Linked DNA regions of Homo sapiens. The protein of the gene in region 3 interacts with the protein of the main gene of each other region in a biochemical or structural test. Each region holds a gene or a part of one and is shown on either strand. Other genes may lie near its edges. The genes, in order: RPS6KA1, ZSCAN30, MAST2, ZNF831, XKR7, SLC22A11 and FCHSD2.

Region 1 (3,500 bases), about 19 Mb from region 3:
TCTACAGGTAGCTCTAAGTTAACCTGTCAAAACTGAACTCTCAATTCTCCCCTAAAACCTACTCATCACATAATCTTACCTTGTGGCAACTCCATCCTTCCTGTTACTTAGGTCAAAATCTTAAAAGTCTTTTTTTTTTGAGATGGAGTCTTCCTCTGTCACCCAGGCTGGAGTGCAGTGGCACGACCTCAGATCACTGCAGCCTCCGCCTCCCGGGTTCAAGCAATTCTCCTGCCTCAGCTCCCAAGTAGCTGGGATTACAGGCACCCGCCGCCATGGCTGGCTGATTTTTGTATTTTTAGTAGAGATGGGGTTTCACCATGTTGGTCAGGCTGGTCTCAAACTCCTGACCTCAAGTGATCTGCCTGCCTCGGCCTCCCAAAGTGCTGGGATTACAGGCGTGAGCCACCACGCCTGGCCCTATTTTCCTTATCTTTAAAATCAAAGAATACACTGCTTTACTTTTATCTGTAGCACTTCCCACTACTTAACATAATATTTAATTTGTTTTCTGAGTCTGCCCACCGGCATGTAAGCTCCCTGAGTGTTTTGCTCACTGCTGTATCCCAGCACTTAAACTAGCTCCTAGTACATGGCAGGTATTCAATAAATATCTGTTGAATGAATGGATGAATGACACTTACTGCTGAGGCCATAAGCAAACGGCTTTCCTCTGGGCCCTGTTTGCTCATCTGTAACTTGAGGGGGCTGAACCACCCCACATTTCATTCTTCTCCTCCCCACACTCTGTAAGGCTTTTTTGTTTTGTTTTGTTTTGAGACAGGGTCTGTGTTGCCCAGGCTGGAGTACAGCAGCATGATTCATGGCTCACTGCAGCCTCAATCTCTGAGCTCAAGTGATCCTCCCACCTCGACCTCGCAAGCAGCTGGGACTAGAGGCATGTGCCACCATACCCAGCTAATTTTTAAAACATTTTTTGCAGAGACAGGGTCTCGCTATGTTGCCCAGGCTGCTCTTGAACCCCTGGGCTCAAGTGATCCTCCTGCCTGGGCCTCTCAAAGTGCTGGGATTAAAGGTGTGAGTAACTGTGCCTGGCCTGTACAGTTCCATTCATAGTCAATCCTCTAACTATCAACTACCAATACCTCTCAGATCTCTAACCCTAGTCCAGAACTTTTCCTGAGTCTTGGCTCATAAATCCAACTGCCTACCACAAGGCAACCACTGGATGTTCCACAGAGCCTCAAACTCAACACATCCCACACTAAACTCCTCATGTTCTCATCTTCCTGCTCCTCCTCCCCTAAGCTAATGGAACCTCCCTGGGCATTGTCAAAAAACCTTCAAAGGCTCCCTACCTGCAAGATAAAGCCCAAAGTCCCTACCCTAACATGGGAGGCACAGCCATCATCTGTTCCAGCCTCACTGTCCATTGCATCCCTCAGGTGCCCTGAGCTCAGGCCACCAGGGGCTCCTTCGGTAACGATCATAACCCTATGTCTGTGGAATGCCCGTTCACCTTCAGCACCCAGTGCAGGGCCTAGCACAGAGCAAATGCTAAGTGAACTTTGTGCAATGAATGAACAAATCACACCTCTGAAACACAGAGACAGATACCTTGCAGGTTAGATTAGTAGAGTTTTGCAGGTTAGTTGGTTTTATTCAGATAGTCTTTTCATAGTCTCAGTTGATCTCCAAGCCCTCCAGCAATGCCCGTGGAGCCCGTGGAGTAGGTAGACATGGCCCAGCACAGTCCACCTCCATAGGGAGAAGAGTGCCAGGTAGATGAGGGGGAAAGGGCCACACTGTTAGGGTAGCCCCAGCAACACACTGTATCCAAGCCTTGGAGAAAGTCCCGTGGGCTCCCTCCTTCAAACACAATCGTATGCCCACAGCACAAGGCCAGGCCCCCAGGAATGTGGACTCTACCTAGAGGTCAGGGATGCTCAGCTTGGCTGAGGACACCAACTACCCTGCACAAGTGAACTTCCAGTTTACAAAGAATGTTACCAGTCGTGATCTCACTGGAGCCATCCACTGCACCTCGGCGGGTGGACAGGAATTATTAGCTCCATTTTACAGAGGAGAAAACCAAAGCTCTGAGAGGACAATTTTCTTTTTTTTTTTTTTGAGATGGAGTCTCGCCAGCAGCACAATCTTGGATCACTGCAACCTCCGTCTCCCAGGTTCAAGCAATTCTCATATCTCAGCTTCCCAGTTAGCTGGAATTACAGGTGTGCACCACCATGCCTGGCTAATTTTTGTATTATAGAAACAGGGTTTCACCCTGTTGGCTAGGCTGGTTTTAAACTCTGGCCTCAAGTGATCTTCCCACCTTGGCCTCCCAAAGTGCTGGGATTACAGGTGTGAGCCACTACGCCCAGCCTGAGAGGACAACTCACTTGCATGTAGGTTAGAGGCAGAGGCAAGACCAGAACCCAGTTCTGACCTGAATTCCATAGTCTTTCCAGTTTAGTGTGGCACACATGACACTACTGGGACACAGGGATATGGAAGTTGACCTTTTTTTTAAATTAATTTATTTTTCTGAGATGGAGTTTTGCTTTTGTTGCCCAGGCTGGAGTGCAATGGCGTGATCTCGGCTCAGTGCAACCTCTGCCTCCCAGGCTCAAGCAATTCTCCTGCCTCAGCCTCCCAAGGAGCTGGTATTACAGGCATCTGCTACCATGCCCAGCTAATTCTTTGTATTTTTAATAGAGATGGGGTTTCATCATGTTGGCCAGGCTGGTCTCGAACTGCTGACCTCAGGCAATCCACCTGCCTCAGCCTCCCAAAGTGCTGGGATTACAGGCGTGAGCCACCACGCCCGGCTCAAGTTGTTGATCTTTTTTCCTACCCTAATACAACATAGAGAAACTACAAATTCCTATAGGAAACTGTCTCACCACTGCCAGTGGCAGAATAGTAGGGATGGTGAGTGGGGGAGGGGAAGTACAGCTTTAAAAAGCCCCACAGGTGATTCTGATACCTGACCCTCAGGAGTGTATGTTGGGGGAGGAAAAGTATAGTCTCACATCTCACCGCATGGAAAATCACAACAGGCTGGGCAAGTAATGAGTGAAGCCAGGCAGAGTGGGAACCTCCAAGCAGTCCACAGAGGACAGCAGCTACCTGGCTCCAGCTGACAGTCACTACATAGCAACTCGGACCCAGTGTTTTTAAAAGCAGCCAAATTACCAAACCTTACTAAACCATACCTCAAATCAAAAAACACCCCTTATCTTGCAGGCCAAACAAAATATATGTGTAGGCCAAATGCAGGCACTGGAGCAATAGGCCGTGACCTCCAGGAGAGTTGGGATTCCAGTCACAGGAAGGAGTCGGGCAGGCCAGGGTGTGAATCCTGGCTTTACTATCCACTCACAGCTGTGTGGTTTTGGGCACGACATTTAACATCTGTAGCCCTCAGTTTCCTCACTTGTAAAATGGGGCTGATAATAGTATTCAACCCCAGGCTTATAGAGAAGGACAGGAATATTTAGCAAAGGGCTTGGGAAATGATGGACATCACAGTAACC
Region 2 (3,500 bases), on a different chromosome or scaffold from region 3:
CATGTTAAAGCAATATTGAGTCATCTGATCCATGAACACAATATTTTTCTCAATTTATTTAGGTCTTCCTTAATATCTCTCACCAATATTTTATAGTTCTTTTTAATATTTTACAGATCTTTCATAACTTTTGACAGATCTATTCCTAAGTATTTAATATATTTTGATGCTATTGTATTTTTCCTTTAATTTCAGATTGTTTGTTGGTAATATAATAGAGAAATACAATTGATTTTTGTATATTAATCTTGTATCTTGCAACTTTGTTAAATTCATTTATTAGTTCTAGTAGCTGTTTTTGTAGATTCTATCAGATATTCTACATATGAGATCAGTTTTACTCCTTCCTTTCCAATCTGGATGCCTTTCTTATTTTCAGCGCAGTAAGGCAGGCAAAGGGAGGTGGAGAAAGGCATTCAGATTGGAAAAGAAGAAGTAAAATTGATCTTTATGTATATCAGTGTTCGGTAGAAATGAAGAAAGGGGAAATCTTTGTCTTTTTTCCAATCTTAAGTGAAGATCTTTGTCTTTTTTTTTAATCTTAAGCATCCTTTCTCTGTTAAGCATGATGTTAGCTGTGGTTTTTTTTATTGGTACCCTTTAACAGACTGAGGAAGTTTTTTTCTAATTCTAGTTTGGTGAGAATTTATATCAGGAATGTAGGATGGATTTTGTCAATTGCCTTTTCTGTATCTTTTGAGAAGACAGTTTGTTAATATGGTGATTTACAATGATTGATTTTTGAACATTAAACCAAACCTGCATTCCTGTAAAAAACCCTGCTTCACTGTGATGTATTATCCTTTTTATATATTGTTGGATTTTTCATGAAGAATATTGGCCTATAGTTTTCTTGTAATGTCGTTGTCTAGTTTTGGGATCAAGGTAACGTGGGCCTCAAAGAATGATTCAAAAAGCATCCCATTGTCTTCAGTATTGTTGAAGAGTTTGTACAGAATTGGTATTATTTCTTCCTTAAATATTTGGCAGAATTCACAGTGAACCTATCTGGACCTAGAGTTTTTTTGTGGGAAGGTTTTAAATTACAAATTCAGTTTCTTTAATAGATATGGTGCTATTCAGGTTATATATTTCTTATAGGGTAAGCTTTAGTATTTTGTATCATTTAAAGAATCAGCCAATTTTGTATAAGTTGGCATAAAGTTGTTTATAATATTACTTTGTCCTTTTTGTATCTGTTGAATCTGCAGTGATGTTACCTCTTTCATTCTTGCTATTAGTAATTTGTATCTTCTCCCATTTCCCCTTGTCGGATAGGCCAGAGCTTTGTCATTTTTATCTTTACAGAGAACCAGCTTTTCATTTATTTAAAAATTGTCTTTCATTTTCTGGTCTATTAATGTCCACTCTGTTCCTTATTATTTCCTTTTTTCTCCTTGCTTTGGGTTTAACTTGCTTTTTTTTTTCTGGTTACTTTAAGTGGAAGTTGAGGCCTCTGATTTGTAATATTTCTTATTTTGTGTTATAGAAATTTGGTGCTATAAATTTTCCCCTAAGTACTGCCTTAGCAGCATCTCACAAATTCTGATGTGTTGTCTTTTTATTTTCATTCAGTTCAGAATACTTTGAACTTGGATTATTTCAGTTTCTAAATATTTGGGGGGTTTCTAGAGATTTTTCTGATATTTATTTCTAATTTAATTTTATTGTAGTCAAAGAACATACTGTGTATGACTTGAATCCTTTAAAATCTATTGAGACTCATTAATGGCCCAAAACATGGTCTGTCTTCATAAATGTTCCATGCACATTTGAGAAGGATATATTAATATATTCTGCTGCTGTTGGGTTGACTATTTGATTATTGTTAGTTGGTTAATGGTATTACTGAAGTTTACTATATACTTTGCTGATTTTCTACTAATTTTAAAAGTAATTATTGAAAGATGAGTATTGAATTCTCTGTCAATAATTGTGGTTTTGTCTATTCTCCTTGTGATTCTATCAGTTTTAATTTTATGTATTTTGAAGCTCACAATTTGCATAAATGTTTAGGATTGTTATTCCTTTTCCTTTTTCTCTTTTTTTGAGATGGAGTCTCTCACTCTGTTGCCCAGGCTGGAGTGTTGTTGATGGCAACAGTGGGCCATCTGGACCATCTGGAGTGGCCACTGCCAAGATGCTGGCTGCAGCCAGGAGGCTCTGCCCATGCTGTGAGCTTCACAGAGCCAGAGGGAGCGGGGACAAGCAGGAGCCCAGCTCCTTCCAAGTTGGCGGGTGGGAGCTCCCCAGGCATAGCTGCAGCTGCCCAAGTCATGGCTGCTGGCTGAGCCTCCCTGTGTTCTTGGAGACCAGGAGCAGGCAGGAGCCCTGCTCTCCTGGGTGCAACTGCAGCCACCCAAGTCCTTGCTACAGACCGTGTTCTTGGAGGCTGGGAGCAGGCAGGAGTGCCAAAGCAGGCAGGAGTGCTGGAGCAGGCATGAGCCCTTCCTGCATCCCCCACCTCCTTTGTGCAGCTGTAGCCACCCAGGTTGTGGCTGCGGACCAACCTGGATATCTCTGCACTCTAGGGGCCTGGGAAGGCACCCCCACCTCAGCAGGCTTGGAGGTATCTGCTTCTGCTGCCTGGCCTCTCCCTGCTCCTGGTGACTGCTCTGATCTAGGAGCAAGGTTGGGGCCGAGCCAGGGTGCTGTTGCAGCCCAGCCAGTTGTGCGCATACTTGAGGCAGTGCTGACAGGCCATTCCTCTGCTGCTTCAGCCCCCTCCAGACTTTGGGTGCTGACAAACATAGAAGGGAGGCTGAGGGAAGGCTGAAGGCAGTTCAGCATTTGCCTGCAGGTGCTTGTCCCCACGAACAGCCTGGGCACCATAGAAAGCAGTAGGAGGCGACATGCTCTGAGGCAGAAAGGGGCGGGTCCCCAGAAGGCCTGAAGCCTAATGGCCAGGCCACCAGTCCCCCTGACTGGAGGGGGAACTGGTGGTGCTTTTTCTTGGACCTGCCCATGGCCACCAATGGACCAATCAGCATGCACTTCTTCCTCTCTGAGGCCCATAAAATTCCCTGGACTCAGCCAGACTGGGGGAGAAGACCTGCCAGCAGAGAGGAGCTACCTACTCCAGGGCCTCTTTTCTGCTGAGAGCTGCAGAGACAACAGGAGGACCAACCTGCAGAGAGGAGCTACCCACTTCAGGGCCTCCTCTTTGCTGACAGCTGCAGCGATGATGGGACAAGCTGCCTGCAGAGAGGAGCTACCCACTCCAGGGTCTCCTCTGAGCTATTCTGTTGCTCAGTAAAGCTCCTCCTTCTCAGTAAAGCTCCTCTTCACTTTGCTCAGCCTCCACTTGTCTACATACCTCATTCTATCTGGATGCAGGACAAGAACTTGAGACCTGCTGAATGGTGGGGCTGAAAGAGCTGTAACACAAACAGAGCTGAAACATGCCCCTTGCTCACCACATTGCAGGCAAAGAGGAGAGAAGAGCTGTGGCCCTTCAGGAAGCCCAGACCAGGAAGCTCCCTGAGCCAGGATTGTGACTC
Region 3 (3,005 bases):
CAGCAGCATGGAGCGGCTCTCACTGCTCGAGGAGCGCCGGACACCACCCCCGACCAAGCGCAGCCTGAGTGAGGAGAAGGAGGACCATTCAGATGGCCTGGCAGGGCTCAAAGGCCGAGACCGGAGCTGGGTGATTGGCTCCCCTGAGATGTGAGCACCCAGAGTTCACCCAGGGTGGGCGACACAGCTATCCCTGCATTGTCACAGATCATGGGAGAGATTCCGATGCCAGGGAGGAGTGCAGGTGGCAGGGAGGGGGCATTCACAAGGGTGGCTCCTGGAGGAATGTCTGCGGAGGAAAGTTCTGTTACTATAACCCTTGTGTGCCCCTAAGGAGACCTGGCAGGAGGAGGGGGACCACCTGGGTCACTCACCCCAGGCCTTGTGTCTCATAGATTACGGAAGCGGCTGTCGGTGTCTGAGTCATCCCACACAGAGAGTGACTCAAGCCCTCCAATGACAGTGCGACGCCGCTGCTCAGGCCTCCTGGATGCGCCTCGGTTCCCGGAGGGCCCTGAGGAGGCCAGCAGCACCCTCAGGAGGCAACCACAGGAGGGTATATGGGTCCTGACACCCCCATCTGGAGAGGGGGTATCTGGGCCTGTCACTGAACACTCAGGGGAGCAGCGGCCAAAGCTGGATGAGGAAGCTGTTGGCCGGAGCAGTGGTTCCAGTCCAGGTATGGCCCAGTGGGCGGCCAAACGACCTAAGCTGGAGGATACTGCAGGGCAGGGAGGCTCAGCGGCATCGCGGGTCTCACTGCTTACTTGGGCCTACAGCTATGGAGACCCGAGGCCGTGGGACCTCACAGCTGGCTGAGGGAGCCACAGCCAAGGCCATCAGTGACCTGGCTGTGCGTAGGGCCCGCCACCGGCTGCTCTCTGGGGACTCAACAGAGAAGCGCACTGCTCGCCCTGTCAACAAAGTGATCAAGTCCGCCTCAGCCACAGCCCTCTCACTCCTCATTCCTTCGGGTGAGGCCCCTGGGGAGCTGGGATAAAACTCACAGGAAGGGCCTTGTAATCTCTAGGCCTTGGGAGGGTTCTGCACGTGGCAGGTGTGTGTGTGTGTGTTAAGCACAGATCTGACTGTGGTCTCTGAAGGTGTGTATTGGTGTCTGGGGTTGTGTATACATGTGCCAGAAAGCAGGACAGCACCATGTCACAAGTGCAGGCTTTGGGGTAGAGAGCTCACACTCAAATCCTGGCTCCATCACTAACAGGCTCTTGACCTTGAGCAAGTTGCTTAACTTCTCTAAGCCTCAAGTTTCTTATCCAAAAATGTGGATATAATAGAGGCCAGCTGATAGGTTGTGACATTTAAATATATATGACAAGCTTATATAGTCCCTGATACACACATAAATGCTAGCTGCCATTTCTCATCACCACCACCGTCTCTTGGGGTCTGGACACGGGAGAGGGCTTCACAGGTCAGGGGCTGTGGGGAAAATGGACCTAGGCTCAGGCTCTGTCTGTGACTAGAGTTGTGCTGACATCAACAGACTGGACCAGGGGCCAGGCCAAAGCCCTCTGACCCACTAAGTCCTGGCTTCTCCTTCTCCAGAACACCACACCTGCTCCCCGTTGGCCAGCCCCATGTCCCCACATTCTCAGTCGTCCAACCCATCATCCCGGGACTCTTCTCCAAGCAGGGACTTCTTGCCAGCCCTTGGCAGCATGAGGCCTCCCATCATCATCCACCGAGCTGGCAAGAAGTATGGCTTCACCCTGCGGGCCATTCGCGTCTACATGGGTGACTCCGATGTCTACACCGTGCACCATATGGTGTGGGTATGTCTGACCATCCAGACCTGCTGTCTCCCTGCTTCATCATCCTTCCAGCTTCCCCTTTGTGGAGCCCATCTGTCCCTGCTCGGGGGTCAAAGGGTGGTGGTGAAGGGGCTCACAGCTTAATGTCCAGAACCAGGCCCCATACTTCGTGTTCAGGCTCCAGTCTGAGTACTGTTCTCTTCCTGGCACAGCACGTGGAGGATGGAGGTCCGGCCAGTGAGGCAGGGCTTCGTCAAGGTGACCTCATCACCCATGTCAATGGGGAACCTGTGCATGGCCTGGTGCACACGGAGGTGGTAGAGCTGATCCTGAAGGTTAGTGCTGGGCGTGCTGCCTGCATGGTCCCTGAATGACCTCAGCCTGTGAGTCTGTGATGGCAGTTAGGGGAGTGGGTGAGTTGGGTGCACACACATCTACACCGAGTATGGATGTAGGTACACACAGGCCGGGCGCGGTGGCTCATGCCTGTAAATCCCAACACTTTAGGAGGCTGAGGCAGGTGGATCACTTGAGACCAGAAGTTTGAGACCAGCCTAGCCAACATGGTGAAACCCTGCCTCTACTAAAAATACAAAAAAAAAAAAAAAAAAATGCCTGGGTGTGGTGGCTCACGCCTGTAATCCCAGCACTTTGGGAGGCCGAGGCGGGTGGATCACCTGTGGTCAGGAGTTTGAGACCAGCCTGCCCAGCATGGCAAAACTCTACTAAAAATAACAAAAATTAGCCAAGCGTGGTGGTAGGCACTTGTAATCCCGGCTACTCGGGAGGCTGAGGAAGGAGAATTGCTTGAACCTGGAAGGCAGTTTGCAGTGAGCTGAGGTCATACCACTGCACTCCAGCTTGGGAGACACAGCAAGACTCTGTTTCCAAAAAAAAAAAAAAAAATTAGCCGAGTGTGGTAGCACATGCCTGTAATCCCAGCTACTTGGGAGGCTGAGGCAGGAGAAGTGCTTGAACCCAGGAGGCAGAGGTTGCAGTGAGCTGAGATCGCACCACTGCACTCCAGCCTGGGTGACAGAGTGAGACTCTGTCTTAAAAAAAAAAAAAAAAGATGTAGGTACACACAGAACTTGAATGTGGCACAACAGAGAGTTTTCTCCACAAGGCAGTACCCTCCCTGACTAAGGCCCAGGGATCCTTCTGAGCTGTGGGTAGGGCTGCAGAATGGGACGGATTAGCCTGTTTTCTACCTTCTTACCCCAAACCACTCTG
Region 4 (3,500 bases), on a different chromosome or scaffold from region 3:
ATATTCATTGTTGAAGGGCATCTGGGCTGATGCCAATTTTTGACTATTACAAATAAAGCTTTAGAAACATTCATGTACAAGCTTTTGTGTGAACGTAAGTTTTCATTGTGAAATAAATGCCCAGGAGTGCAGTTGCTGGGTTGAATAATAGTCCCATGTTTGATTTGTTAAGAAATGGCCACCCTTTTTTCCAGAATGGCTGTGCCACTTCACATCCACACCGAAATGGATCCTGGCAACGTGGGCAGTGTTTCCAGATCCTCGCCAGCATTTGCTGTTTCACTATTTTTTATTCTAGCCATTCTGACAGGTGTGAAGTGATATTTTATTGTGGCTTTAATTTATATTTCCCAGGTGGCTAAAGATGTTGAACACCTTTTCGTGTGCTTATCTGCTGGCTGTATACCGTTTTTGGTGATAACTTGCTTCATGTGTTTGCACACTTTCTAATTGGATTGTTGTTGGTTTTTTTTTAACTGTTAAATTTTCATAGTTCTGTATAGATTTTAAATATAAGTCCCTTGTCAGATATGTTGTTTGTGAATACTTTCTCCAGATCTGTAGCTAGTTTTTTATTCTCTTATTATAAGCAGGGGTTTGCACAGAGCAAAAAAAAAAAAATTAACTTCGATGAGGTCCATTTTATTATATTTTCCTTTTATGGCTCATACTTTTTGTTTCAAGTCTAGGAACTCTTTCCCACTTTAGAAGTCCTAAAGATTTTCTCCTGTGCTTTTTTTCCCCTAAGCTTTTACAGTTTTATATTTCACATTTAAGACTGTTTTAAATATTTTGAGTTAATTTCTATATAAGTAAGATGTGAGGTTTAGGTCAAGGTTTTTTTTTTCTTTTTTCTTTTGCCTGCGGAAGTCAATTGTTTCAGCATCATTTGTTGAAACATCTACACTCTCTCTACAGAACTGCTTTCAACCTTTGTCAAAAAATCAGTTGGCTGAGGCAGGAGAATTGCTTGAACCCAGGAGGCAGAGGTTGCACTGAGCTGAGATCGTGCCACTGCACTCCAGCCTGGGTGACAGAGCAAGACTCCATCTCAAAAGAAAAAAAAATCAGTTGGGTATATTTGTGCAGATTGATTTATGTTTTTTTTTTTAATTATTTTGTTCTACTCATGTCTGTGTCTATTCTGACAATACAGTCTTGATTACTTTGGCTATATAATAAGTTATCAAGTTAGGTAGACTGATTCTTTACACTTTATTATCTTTCTTCAAACTTGTTTGAGTTATTCCAGTTCTTTTGCCTTTCTATATAAATTTTAGAATAATCTTGTCTATGCCCACAAAAATATCTTACTAGGGTTTTGATAGGAATTGCATTAAACCTGTATATCAATTTAGGGAGAATTGACATTTTTACTATGTTGAATCTTCCAATGCATGAACACAATATGCCTCTTTATTATTTAGACTTTATTTGAGTTAGTTCATCAGTGTTTTGTAGTTTTCAGTGCGTAAGTCTTGTACATGTTTTATTAGATTTACAACTACATATTTCGTTTTTCATTTAATTTTGGTTTTCAACCATTCATAGCTAGTATATAGAAATGTAATTGACTTTTGTGTGTTGATCTTGTATCCTGTGTCCTTGCTGCACTCACTTATTAGTGCGAGGAGGTTTTTTTTTTTTTTTTTTTGTAGATTCTTTGAGAATTTGTATGTAGACAATAATCTCATCTGCAAGTAGGGATAGTTTTATTTTTTCATTTCCTGCTTGCAAGTCTTTCCTTTCCCTGTATTTTGTATTTCTTTCTTGCTTTATTTTACTGGCTAAAACTTTCAGTCATCTTCTGAATGAGAGTGATGAGAGTGGACATCTTTCTTTTTCCTGATCTTAGGGAGAAAACATTCAGTTTTTCACCGTTAAGTATAATGTAAACTTTGGTGTTTTGTAGATGCTTTTAATCACATTAAGAGATTTCCGTCTATTTCTATTTTCCAACGAGATTTTATTATGAATGGGTGTTGAATTTTGTCAAAAGCGTTTTCTACATCAATTGATATAATTATGTGATTTTTCTTTTTACCCTGTTAATATGGTGGATTATACTGAATGCATTCCTGGAATCCTTGTTCAAGGTGTATAATTTTTTTCTTATCACAGAATTCTATTTGCTGATATTTTGGGAGAGGTTTTGAGTCTGTGTTCATGAGGGATATTCGTCTGTAGTTGTCTTTTCATGCTGTCTTTGTCTAGTTTGGTCGCAGGGTAATACCTAGGTGCTTAAAATTAACTGGGAAGTGTTATTTCCTTTTCTGTTTTCCGGATAAAGTTGCGTCGAATTTGTGTTAATTCTTCTTTTAAAGTTAGAATTCTCCACATCAGGGCCTGGAGACTTCTTAGCAGGGAGCTTCAAAATTGCAAATTCAATCTGATAAATAGTTATAGTGTGATTCTCATGTGATTCAAATGATCTGTTTCCCATTAGGTGGATCATGGTAGTTTGCGCTTTTTGAGGAATTGGTCCACTTCATCTAAGTCATCAAATTTATGTGAGCTGAGTTATTTACGGTATTCCCTTAAGGTCATTTTAATGTCTGCAGGGTCTGTAGTGATAGCCCATTTTCCTTCCTGACATTGATAGTTTGTGTCTTCTCTCATTTGTCCTTTGTCAGTTTTTGTAGAGATTCTAAAGACCAATTTTAGGCTGGGCACAGTGGCTCATGCCTATAATCCCAGCACTTTGGGAGGCTGAGATGGGTGGATCACTTGAGGCCAGGAGTTCGAAACCAGCCTGGCCAACGTGGTGAAATCCTGTCTCTACTAAAAATACAAAAATTAGCCCGGTGTGGTGGTGCGCACCTGTAATCCCAGCATGTTGCAAGCTGAGGCAGGAGGATCAGTTGAGGTCAGGAGTTTGAGACCAGCCTGGCCAACATGATGAAACCCTATCTCTACTAAAAATACAAAAATTAGCCGGGCATGATGGCAGACACCTGTAATCCCAGCTACTCGGGAGGCTGAGGCAGGAGAATGTTTTGAACCCAGGAGGCAGAGGTTGCAGTGAGCCAAGATCATGCCACTTCACTCTAGCCTGGGCAATAGAGCAAGACTCTGTCTCAAAAAAAAAAGGTGAATTTTATTAATCTTGTCCAAGAAAAAGCTCTTTCTTTCATTGATTTTCTCTATTATTTTTCTGTTTTGATTTGACCTATTTCTTCTCCTACCTTTATTATCTCCTTTCTTCCGCTTGCTCTGGATTTATTATGCTTTCCTTTTACTACAGTCAAGTGGGAGTCTAGAGTCTTGATTTGAAACCCTCCCTCTTTTTCTTTTTCTTTTTAAACAATTAATAGCAGTTTATTTTAAAACATTTTTGTGGGTACATAGTAGGTGTATATATTTGTGGGGTACATGAAATGTTTTGATACAGGCATGCAGTGTGAAATCATCACACTGTGGGAAATGCTCCTCTTTTCTAATGTAAACATTTAGTGCTATAAATTTCCCTCCCAGCACTGCTTTAGCTATGTGCCACAAAT
Region 5 (3,500 bases), on a different chromosome or scaffold from region 3:
TCAGGGGTTGGATTCCATCATTTTCAAACTGTGTTTTATAGCCCTGTCTCCATCATTTTAACCCAAGTATCTCTGAATGTCTCTTTTATGACATGTCTAAGATTTTGTTTTGAATAATCTGTCCTACAGCTGACACTTGATTACAGTCCCCTGAACTCAGTGACCATCCATGAGGTTCCTCCCTGCTCTGCCTTTGTAGGGTTGTTCCAGTTTGGGCCTCACCACTCACCTCCTGGGAGACCCCTCTCCAGGAGGCTCTCCACCCCCACCCTGCCTCCTCCCCTTGCCCATCCAGCTGCCATGGACCATTAGAGCTGCTCCTAACAGACACAGCGGCGGCGGTTGGGCCCAGCGTCCCCTGTTTGATCTATAAAGACCACACAGGAGAAGCTCTGGGGAGTGGGAGGGCGGAGGGCTGCCAGGAAATGGCTTTGAACCCAGCATCTGGGGCGCAGGTCCCTGGGGAGAGGAGGGAGGATGGTTGGGATCTTCTCTGGCCTCTCTGTTCACCACCCTGCCTTTGTTAGGGCATCCAAATTCCTCCCCTGGGAAATCCTATCAGCCTCCGGTTATCACCCCCAACCCCCAATCCCGCCTCCACCTGCAGGCAGAGCGATGGCTCCCCTATGTCCCTAGAGCAAGTCCCTGTGCTTTAGCCTGGCTTTGAGGCCCTTTGCCCCCTGATCTTTTGTCTTTCCTCCCTGCTCTACCCACATGACAACCTGCTCCCCACCCCCTTGCTCTCCATTGCCTGCAGTCCTTCCTCCAGCAACACCCAACACCAGTTTCCAGTCTCCTCCCAGTGAAATTCTGCACGTCCTTCCAGGCTGAGCTCAAATGCCACCTCTTCTAAGAAGCTTTCTCTGAACAAATCCCACACATGCTACCCTCTGCCCCCCAGAAACCACCTCCCACTCACTCAACCAGGCAAAAGTCATTGTTCTAAAGTGGAAAATGTTTGGCTGTTTTGTCTGTTGATCAAAAAGCTATACATTCTTGTTGAAACCTCAGGCAATATAGAAAAGGCATAAAGAGATTCCCCTCTGCTCATTATCTCTTGGGGCGGGAGGGGTGGGGTCAGGGGAGATTTCCACTTATTAAGTAGATATTTCTTGCATTGCTTGAAGATTTTGCCTCTGGTTTTCAGTTAGCTAAAAAAATGCATGTATAGATTTGTCTATTTTTTAAAAATCAGTATAAAAATGAAATTTATTATACTTACTGTTTATTAAGACTTAGATTCGATCATTTCTCTTGACAATCCTGCCAGGTAGAGACTGCGAGGATGAAGAAGAGAACTGTAGACCCAAAACCCTGGCTCTGCCACATATGAGCTGTGTGGCTTTGAGCAAGTCACTTAACCTTTCTGGACCTCAGCTTTCTCATCTGTGAAATGGGCATCATAACAATCCCTACCCAGGTCTCCATTGTGAAGGCTGATTCAATTAATATATATGTGCTCTGCACAGTACTCAGCACATAGTGGTGCTCAGTTAGTGTTTGCTAGCATTATTGGCCCCATTTTACAGATGTGGAAATTGAGGCACAGAGAAGAGTGGCCTTCCAATTCATAAGGAGCAAAGCTAGGGTTTGAAGCCATGAGGTCAGGCTCCCAAACCCACATGTGGAACCACCAAACTATACTGTCTTCTGCTAGTTAAGTGTATTCTTACAAACAATCAATCATGTATTGTTTAGAGAAGCAGAAGAAAAAATATCAGAAAAGTATTTTTATTTTTTTTTATTTTTTTTGAGACAGAGTCTCGCTCTGTCTCCCAGGCTGGAGTGCAGTGGCTCGATCTCGGCTCACTGCAACCTCTGCCTCCCCGGTTCAAGCGATTCTCCTGCCTCAGCCTCCCGAGTAGCTGGGATTACATGTGCCCACCCCCACACCCAGCTAATTTTTGTATTTTTAGTAGAAACGGGGTTTCACCATATTGGCCAGACTGGTCTCGAACTTCTGACCTCAGGCGATCCACCTGCCTCGGCCTCCCAAAGTGCTGGGATTACAGGCGTGAGCCACCACACCAGGCCAGAAAAGTATTTTTAAATTTGTATTTTAATGTAAAGTCCCCACTGTTAACATTCTGGGTTCTTCCCCTCAGACTTCCTCCCCAGGCACAATTACTCATTCCTTTTTACCCCACAGCACTGATCACATTTTGTTGTGATCATCTACCCACCTGGCTGGCTTTCCCGCTGGATCACAAACCCCTGGGGAGTTGAGGCTTTGTTGCTTTTTCTTTCTGTCTCCCATGGTGACTAGCACAGATTAGATCCTCTGTTACTGTTGGTGGTCTTGCACCCAGCCAGCTCTAGTGAGGTCTATGGTGGGTTCTTGCAACATGAAGCCAGTTGAAGCTGGCATTTGGCAGGGTGCTGAATGTGCGAGCTTTCTGCAGTTGTGGACACAGCACTGAGGTCTGTTAGGCCTACATCCACAGCCTTTAAAACTGTCCACGGCCTAAGGCTAAGGAAAGAGGAGGTAGTAGGAACAACCCTGGGTTGGGTTCCCAGAATGATACAGTTGTGGCTGACTTAGGAGATGGAGGAAGTCAAGTTCCTTGTATGCAGTAGGTACTCAATAAATGTTGGTGTGAACTGGATTGAACCTTTGAGATCAGAATCTTGGACAAGTCACTTCGCACCTAGGGTTCAGTTACTCCATCTGTAAAGTAACTTCAGAATTCTGGTGAGTTTTCCTAGGACTTGGACAAGAAAGCAGAGTAGCTGAGAGCTTGGGGCACCAGCGCAGATCAAGGAGCCATGACATCCTAGTTGCGTGACCCTGGGGAAGTTGCTCCACCAGCCACAGCTCCTGTCTCATCTGTGAAATGGGGATAGTGATAGTATCCACATCTTAAGGTTTTTATAAGGATGTCTTGAGATAATGTAAATGCACAGGGCTTGTCACATAGTATATGCCCAGAAAACATCTACTACAATGACTATTATTATTGGCCCAAGTCACAGCCCATCCTACTTGCTTAGTAACAAGATGGGGTTAGGACAGGGGCATAAGGGGTCCTAACTCTCACCCACTGACCCCCTATCGAGGAAGGAGAGTTGTTCTATGGCTCCAGAGATACTGTGAGGGCAGATGCGAACTCAAAGTAAAGGGAGGCACAGTCTTTGGAATAGAAGCAAGAACACACTGTCAATCAGGCTGTTCCCGAGGGTGTGAACTCCACATCAGCAGAGGTGTCCAGATGGAAGTGGCTAACTTTGGCAGGGATGCTGTATCAGGGACTCTTGCTTCAGTCTGGAGGATAAACTAGATGATCTCTAAAGCCCCTTAGTTCTGTGTCTGTAGCTCTATCCTTGGGACTTTATGATACTCGCTTCCATGATGTTTAACCACCAGACCACAGGTTGCAAATCAGTGGCCTATGGGCAAATCCAGCCTCAAGAGTGTTGGTTTGGTCCGCAAAGGACTTTTTTCTCCTACTTTTTTTTTTTATTTTTTTTGCTTTTTGAGATGGTCACGCTCTGTTGCCTAG
Region 6 (3,500 bases), on a different chromosome or scaffold from region 3:
GGGAAAATGAGGTGGGCCCTAGAGATTTCCCCTGAAACACTAGATGCAAAAATCTGGGTGGGCTCCGTGGAGGAGGTGGCATTAGAGGAGGCCTTGAGGAGGGCAATTCCCTCAGCCCAGCTTTCCTTCCCCTGGCATCTGTGAGCCCAGGATGTCTTCCTGCCACAGGGCCAGCTGTTACAGGGATCTGGGCCCTCCCCTTCACCCACAGGATGACAGCAGATGGCATTCTGCATACAGTGGGCCGGCTGGGGGCTATGATGGGTCCCCTGATCCTGATGAGCCGCCAAGCCCTGCCCCTGCTGCCTCCTCTCCTCTATGGCGTTATCTCCATTGCTTCCAGCCTGGTTGTGCTGTTCTTCCTCCCGGAGACCCAGGGACTTCCGCTCCCTGACACTATCCAGGACCTGGAGAGCCAGTGAGTGACCTGTGATCCCTGGGCATCGGGCTGGGCTTCCTCCTGGGCCAAGATGGAGACAGGCCTGGGCTGCCCAGGGCAAAGGCTCAAGAGTACCAAGGCCTGTGTTTCTGAAACCATTTAATCTTTCCAACAATCCTGCCAGAAATGTATTATTACTATCCCCATACTATTACTAGGGTCAGAGAAAGAAAGTGACTTATCCAAAGTCTCATGGGTAGAAAGTGATCATACCTCATGCAGGAAAATGTAATGGTTGAAAGCCCAGGCTTGGCAGCCAGGTTGCCTGGGCCCACGTTCCCCACCTGCCTGGGCAAGTGACTTAACCTCTCTCACCAAAACTGACAAAGGGAGATACAGATAGTCTCAACTGTCCTAGTGCAATTTTCCCACAAAGAATTTCAGGCCCAGACAGATCAACAGGTGAGTTCTTTCAAACCCTCAGAGAACAGATGGTGCCATCTCACACCCATTCTTTGACAGGGAGAAATGAGGGAGCACTCCCTGGCTGCATTTTATAGCCAGAACCACTTCTGTGGGCTTTAGCCTCCTCCTTTGTAAGATGGTGTTTAGAAAAAACAAACAAAACCCAGCCTGGCTCACAGAGTTGTTTTCAAGTTTAAGGGAAGTATTATTTTAAAGCACCTGGGAAAATGCCAGGCCTGCAGCAAGCACTCTGGACATGTGGTTATTGTGTCCTGGGTGACTGTTCACAGGGCCGCCTCAATTCTGATGGTGACCGAGGTCACAATGATAGTAATAATACTGAGTTCTTATTGTTTTATGTCACCTTATTTAATCGATACAACAACCACATGAGGTGCTATTACAGTCCAATTCCTTTGCCAAGGAAACTGAGATGCAGCAGGGTTATATAACTTGCCTAAGGACACCTGCAGAGACCCGGAGAAGCTGGGACTTCATTTTTTCTTTAATTTAATTGATTTTTGTTGTGTACCTACTATGTTTCAGGCACTGTCCCGCTTGGGTACACAGAAGGGAGTAAAAGCCTAATGCCATAGAGTTTACCCCCCAATAAGACTTGACCGCCATTTTGCCCCAAGCTCCGAGTACATACCCACTTCACCACATGGCACTGCTTTTCTTTGGATTATTCTAGGAAATCAACAGCAGCCCAGGGCAACCGGCAAGAGGCCGTCACTGTGGAAAGTACCTCGCTCTAGAAATTGTGCCTGCATGGAGCCCCTTTAGTCAAAGACTCCTGGAAAGGAGTTGCCTCTTCTCCAATCAGAGCGTGGAGGCGAGTTGGGCGACTTCAAGGGCCTGGCATGGCAGAGGCCAGGCAGCCGTGGCCGAGTGGACAGCGTGGCCGTCTGCTGTGGCTGAAGGCAGCTTCCACAGCTCACTCCTCTTCTCCCTGCCCTGATCAGATTCCCCACCTTACCCGGGCCCTACAGGAGCCTGTGCAGATGGCCATGCCCAACCAATAACGAGACGGTTCCCCTCCCTTTCCCTGCCAGGCTCATGTCTTTACACCTTCACTCAGCCACGCCAACCAGAGACTGGGTTCCAATCTCACCCCACCACATACAGAGCCCTCATCTGTGAAATGAGAATGATCACGTGACCCACCCCCCAGGGCAGGTATCAGGGTGAACTGATCTTAGCACCGGCCAAATAAATGGAACCTGCTGAGAGAGCTGCCAGATACAGGTGTCCAGGTTGTGCACTGGCCCGAGGCACGCAGCCAAGGAGGCGTGTGGGGTCTGAAACTCAGCCCCGGCTACACTGGCCCCACCACCCACCCTAGCAAAGGCTGTGTCCTCTCCAAAAAAAGGAGCTGTTTTAATCACTTTTCATTTACTCATCAGTGAGGGAGGGCTTCCAGCCCTATGGTTACGAAGACGGCCAAACACACCACCAAACACCAGACAGAGGAGGCTGGCAGCAGGTTACCACACACGTGCGCAGAGCCCACGAAGATGACGCTGCACTGAGGCATGGGGCGGGGTGCACTGAGGATCCGAGCGAGCAGCCAGGGCTGCAGGAAGGCAGCTTTGGAGCACAAAGGGGGTGGGGCAACTCCTGGCTTCTGCGGGAAGGTGTAATCAGCTTGTTTCATCATGCTGCAGGCTGGCGAGAAACGGAGCCTTACAAGCGTAGGGATAAGAGGAACCCCTCTTGGTCCCCTCGATGAGGGTTGTTGGGCCGGGGAGCCTCATCCACAGGGCGGAGTGAAAGGGGAGAAGGGGAGCTCACAGGCAGGCCTGCCAAGGCCTTCTGGCTTTGCCAGATGTCAAGGGCAGCACCTAATACTGAACCTTAACTTTCGGCTTTCAACCAAACGGCACCCTTTTGCTGTTTGTTTTCTGGAGGGGACACCTTTTCTTGATTCATGCCCAGACCTCCCTTGTCCAGGCCATGAAAACTCTGGGATGGTCGAGGCCGGCTGCCCATCTCAGATGGGCAAGGAAGCAAAAGTGCAGAGTGGTGGAGGGGCCAGCTTGCAGAAACACGGCCGAACCCGGCCCTGATCCTAGCCCAGGGCTCTTTCCAGCACAGGAGGCTCCTAGCCCTCGTCTCCAACCCTCCATGCCACTGATATCTGTGGCCCTGCCACAAAGTTACCCTCATGCCCTTCCCTGGAGACCCCACTCTGGGCCACCTCAATCTCAGGCCCCTCAACTCACCTCTTTCACCCTGTGTACACTGGGTCAATCACTCCTGCCTCCTCACAGCTCCCAAATCCACCTACTTCCCTTCACTCTGGCTACACCCTGGTTCACACCACGGTTGTAGCTCCAAACTGGTCCCTGATGTCTACATTGCACTCTGCACAACAGCCACCATGCTTATTAAGAAACGCAATCCAAACCAAATCCCTCCCTGCTGAAAGCCCTCCAGTGGCTCACAATAAGGATCACACTTCTCCCCCTGCCTGGTCAGGCAGCCATGGGACCCCAGCCTTTCCTCCCACTTCGGTAAATTTTAAAGGATTCGGATCATACAAAGAATGTTCTTGAACCAGCATGGAATTAAATTAGAAATCAATTATGGAAAGAGATATAGAAAACCTCTTCAAACTATACAACACACTTCTAAGTAACCCACGGGTCAAAGA
Region 7 (3,500 bases), on a different chromosome or scaffold from region 3:
AAAATAAATAAATACATAAAAATAAAAAATAAAAATGAGCAAAAAATCTGAATAGACATTTCTCAAAAAAAGTCATATAAATGGCAAGCAGGCATATAAAAAGGTGCTCAATATCATTGACCATCAGAGAAACATAAATCAAAACTATAATTAGATAGCATGTCATCCCAGGTCAAATGACTTTTATCCAAAAGACAGGTGATATGTTTGGCTCTGTGTCCCCACTCAAATCTCATCATCTCAAATTGTAATCCCCATATATCGGGGGAGGGTCCCTGTGGGAGGTGACTGGATTATAGGAGCGATTTCCCTGATGCTGTTCTCATGATTGTGACTGAGTTCTCACGATATCTGATGGTTTAAAAGTGGCACTTCCCCCTTCGCTTCCTCTCTCCTACCCCCATGTCAAGAAGGTACTTGATTCTCCTTTGCCTTCTACCATGATTGTAAGTTTCCTGAGGCCTCCCCAGCCATGCGGAACTGAGTCAATTAACCCTTTCTTCTTCATAAATTACCCAGTCTCAGGTAGCTCTTTCTTTTTTTTTTTTTTTTTTTTGAGATGAAGTCTCACTCTGTCACCCAGGCTGGAGTGCAGTGGTGCGATCTCAGCTCACTGCAACCTCCACCTCTCAGGTTCAAGCGATTCTCGTGCCTCAGCCTCCCTGAGTAGCTGGGACTACAAGTGCATGCCTCCACACACAGCTAATTTTTTGTATTTTTAGTAGAGATGGATTTTCACCATGTTGGCAGGCTGGTCTCAAACTCCTGACCTCAGGTGATCTGCCCACCTCGGCCTCCCAAGGTGCTGGGATTATGGGTGTAAGTCACCATGCCCGGCCACAGGTAGTTCTTTAAAGCAGTGTGAAAACGAACTAATACAACAGGCAATAAAAAATGCTGGTAAGGATGTGGAGAAAACAGAACTCTCATACATTAAAACTACTATGAAAAAATTAAAAGTCCAATAAAAGAAACTGTAAAGTTGAAGAAGTCTCCCAAAAAGTACAACATAATGACAAAGATGGAAAATAAGAAAGAAATGAAATTTAAAGAAGCAAGCTAGGAGATATCATATCTTAATAATGGGAAGTTCCAGAAAGAGAAAACAAAAGGGAAGAATTAATCCAAGAAATCAAAGGGTACACTGAGAATATTCCATAAACTTCTAAAAAAAGAAAAAACAAACAATTAGATCAGATACAAATAATCAAGAACTAGGATGGCTTTGGATTCTCAATACTTACACAGTAAAGAAGAAAACAATGAGGTATGGACTCCAATGTTTCAATGAAAGAGTTTTCAACCTTTAATTCTATATCCAAGTACAAGCAAATAATATGCCATTTTCATAAACATAGTATCTCAAAAAACTTACTTCCCATGCCCACTTTCGCAAGAAGGTACTGGAGGATGTGCTCTACCAAAGGACAGTATAAATCAAGAAAAAAATAAGACATATCATAAAGAAAACTGGAGATCTAACACAACAAAGACATATAGGAAGATCTCAGGATAAATACTTGCATCTGACACAGAGGGCAACTAGTCCAGATTAGAAGAATGTAACTCAAAAGACAGTCATAATGAGGGTTGTTATCACCAAGATAACTGCTAATGTAAGAACAGAATGTCCAGGAAATACGAAAAGAACATAAAATAATTGTTTTGTTCCCTAAGAAGGCAGGAGGGGATGAGATATAATCCAAAGCTGAGGTGAAAAGATCACCTTTAGACAGGAACAACTGCTACTGAGACTCTGGAAGAGTCTTCAACACAGATGAAGTGGACAATATTGAAGCTGTCTTCCAACGGTTTCTATCGTCTCTGTAAATTAGGAAGAAAACCCACTTGCTAAGCATAAAAGAGAAGGGGTAAGTTTGAGGTTTGAAGAGGGGGGAAAAGTTGAAATAACTGTTAAAAATAGTAGGAAAAGTTAACTAGGGAAAAGACAGTAGGCCATCTAAGCAGTGTTGAAACTGCTGCACTGGTTTCTCTATTAATTTATGATCATGAATCTGCTCCGTCGAAACTTTTCTTCAGCAGTACTTGGCTGCTTAGATACAGATTATCCAGTTATGGGGGCTCATCAGAGTTACAATTTCATTTCATTTGAAGAAGGGCAAAGATAAGAATATAAGTTAGAGTATTATTTAAATAATGAGCTATGAACTTTAACGAGGATAACAAAGAAAATGAGAAAGGATAACATGTATTAAATGGTTAGGATAATGCCAAGGCAATATTAAGCAATAAAAAAGATAGCTATTATTATTACTAACCACAGTCCTCCAGCAGTAAGTGATTTCCATCACTCTAATTTGCAATCATGTATATATGTATGTGTATGTGTGTGTGTGTATATATATATATATATATATAATGTATGTATGTATATATATGTATGTGTATATATATGTATATATGTGTGTGTATATATATGTGTATGTATATATATACATCTCACTCTCTTCTACCATATTGAGCTCTTTGAGGATAAGTAGTATGTCTTACTCATCTGTCTCTTCCCAAAGCCTAACTCAGTAGTTAGCATGCTGTAAGAGGCTCTTAAATGTGTATGATTAAACCAACAAATCAAATACCCTGCTTTTAAGCTACCCATATAGGGCATTATCACCTTAACATTAATTCAGAAAAATAGATATTTCCTTAACATTAATTCAGAAAAACAGATATTTTCAAGAAAGGCATCTAAGGGCCACTGACAATTCAATGGTGGAAATTTACTAAGTAGCTAACAGCATGATTGATAGGAGTTTTCCTGTACTGCAGACTATAGAATTAGCATGAGGAAGAAAATGAGTTAATGTACAGTACATGAAAACTGAAAGTATGTTTTCTCATTTTTAAGGGGCAGGAGGGACCAACCCCTGCCTCTATTTTTAATCAGTTTAGTACCCCACAATGTTTCATTAAATGAATACTCCAAAGCATGACCTACCCAATGCTGATCAAATATATGCATAAAGACTTCAAAGTAAGTTCGAGAACATATATTAATCTGTGAGCTGGCCAGGCCCTTTAACTTCCTCTTTGCTTTAGGCAGAGAGCAGATCCCCCAAATAAGAATGTACTTTCTCTGGTTTATTGAAGGCCATCTTTTTTAGCTGTAGATCCAATAGAAAAAAAATAGGATTTTATTTTTGCTGTTGCTTAAGTTAATATAATGTTCATTTAAAAATATTCATAGGGAAAAATATACAGCTTTGATATAATAGTAGACATATATAGAATATAGTGAATTACAACCTTAAGTGCGAGCTGTGCTAAAAATCATCTTTAGTAAATGTGTTCTTTGAAACTGTTGGTCCTTGTAAGTCTGAAGCACTATGTAATACCTAATACGATACTAAAACCAGCCAGGCCCAGTAGCTCACCCCTATAATCCCAGCATTTTGGGAGGCTGAGGTGGGAGGATCTCTTAAGCCCAGGAGTTAAAGAATAGCCTGGGCAACAAAGTGAGACCACGCCTCTGCGAAAAT

The links.
Region 1: the proteins of MAST2 (region 3) and RPS6KA1 interact in a test that uses a peptide from one of them, tested with the Homo sapiens proteins (2 studies listed by BioGRID and IntAct, with this or other methods).
Region 2: the proteins of MAST2 (region 3) and ZSCAN30 interact in a test that uses a peptide from one of them, tested with the Homo sapiens proteins (one large-scale study listed by IntAct).
Region 4: the proteins of MAST2 (region 3) and ZNF831 interact in a test that uses a peptide from one of them, tested with the Homo sapiens proteins (one large-scale study listed by IntAct).
Region 5: the proteins of MAST2 (region 3) and XKR7 interact in a test that uses a peptide from one of them, tested with the Homo sapiens proteins (one large-scale study listed by IntAct).
Region 6: the proteins of MAST2 (region 3) and SLC22A11 interact in a test that uses a peptide from one of them, tested with the Homo sapiens proteins (one large-scale study listed by IntAct).
Region 7: the proteins of MAST2 (region 3) and FCHSD2 interact in a test that uses a peptide from one of them, tested with the Homo sapiens proteins (one large-scale study listed by IntAct).

What each region holds. Positions count from the first base shown.
Region 1 is NC_000001.11:26,567,761-26,571,260, reverse strand, and holds part of RPS6KA1 (ribosomal protein S6 kinase alpha-1), read right to left. Parts: intron 1-3,500. UniProt on the Homo sapiens protein: Serine/threonine-protein kinase that acts downstream of ERK (MAPK1/ERK2 and MAPK3/ERK1) signaling and mediates mitogenic and stress-induced activation of the transcription factors CREB1, ETV1/ER81 and NR4A1/NUR77, regulates translation through RPS6 and EIF4B phosphorylation, and mediates cellular proliferation, survival, and differentiation by modulating mTOR signaling and repressing pro-apoptotic function of BAD and DAPK1.
Region 2 is NC_000018.10:35,283,730-35,287,229, reverse strand, and holds part of ZSCAN30 (zinc finger and SCAN domain-containing protein 30), read left to right. Parts: intron 1-3,500. UniProt on the Homo sapiens protein: May be involved in transcriptional regulation.
Region 3 is NC_000001.11:46,030,612-46,033,616, forward strand, and holds part of MAST2 (microtubule-associated serine/threonine-protein kinase 2), read left to right. Parts: coding exon 1-150; intron 151-395; coding exon 396-679; intron 680-779; coding exon 780-974; intron 975-1,566; coding exon 1,567-1,793; intron 1,794-1,984; coding exon 1,985-2,107; intron 2,108-3,005. UniProt on the Homo sapiens protein: Appears to link the dystrophin/utrophin network with microtubule filaments via the syntrophins. Phosphorylation of DMD or UTRN may modulate their affinities for associated proteins. Functions in a multi-protein complex in spermatid maturation.
Region 4 is NC_000020.11:59,166,821-59,170,320, forward strand, and holds part of ZNF831 (zinc finger protein 831), read left to right. Parts: intron 1-3,041; exon of another isoform or gene 3,042-3,500.
Region 5 is NC_000020.11:31,974,651-31,978,150, forward strand, and holds part of XKR7 (XK-related protein 7), read left to right. Parts: intron 1-3,500.
Region 6 is NC_000011.10:64,569,441-64,572,940, forward strand, and holds the end of SLC22A11 (solute carrier family 22 member 11), read left to right. Parts: intron 1-211; coding exon 212-418; intron 419-1,538; coding exon 1,539-1,602; 3' UTR 1,603-3,435; downstream 3,436-3,500. UniProt on the Homo sapiens protein: Antiporter that mediates the transport of conjugated steroids and other specific organic anions at the basal membrane of syncytiotrophoblast and at the apical membrane of proximal tubule epithelial cells, in exchange for anionic compounds.
Region 7 is NC_000011.10:72,978,319-72,981,818, forward strand, and holds part of FCHSD2 (F-BAR and double SH3 domains protein 2), read right to left. Parts: intron 1-3,500. UniProt on the Homo sapiens protein: Adapter protein that plays a role in endocytosis via clathrin-coated pits. Contributes to the internalization of cell surface receptors, such as integrin ITGB1 and transferrin receptor.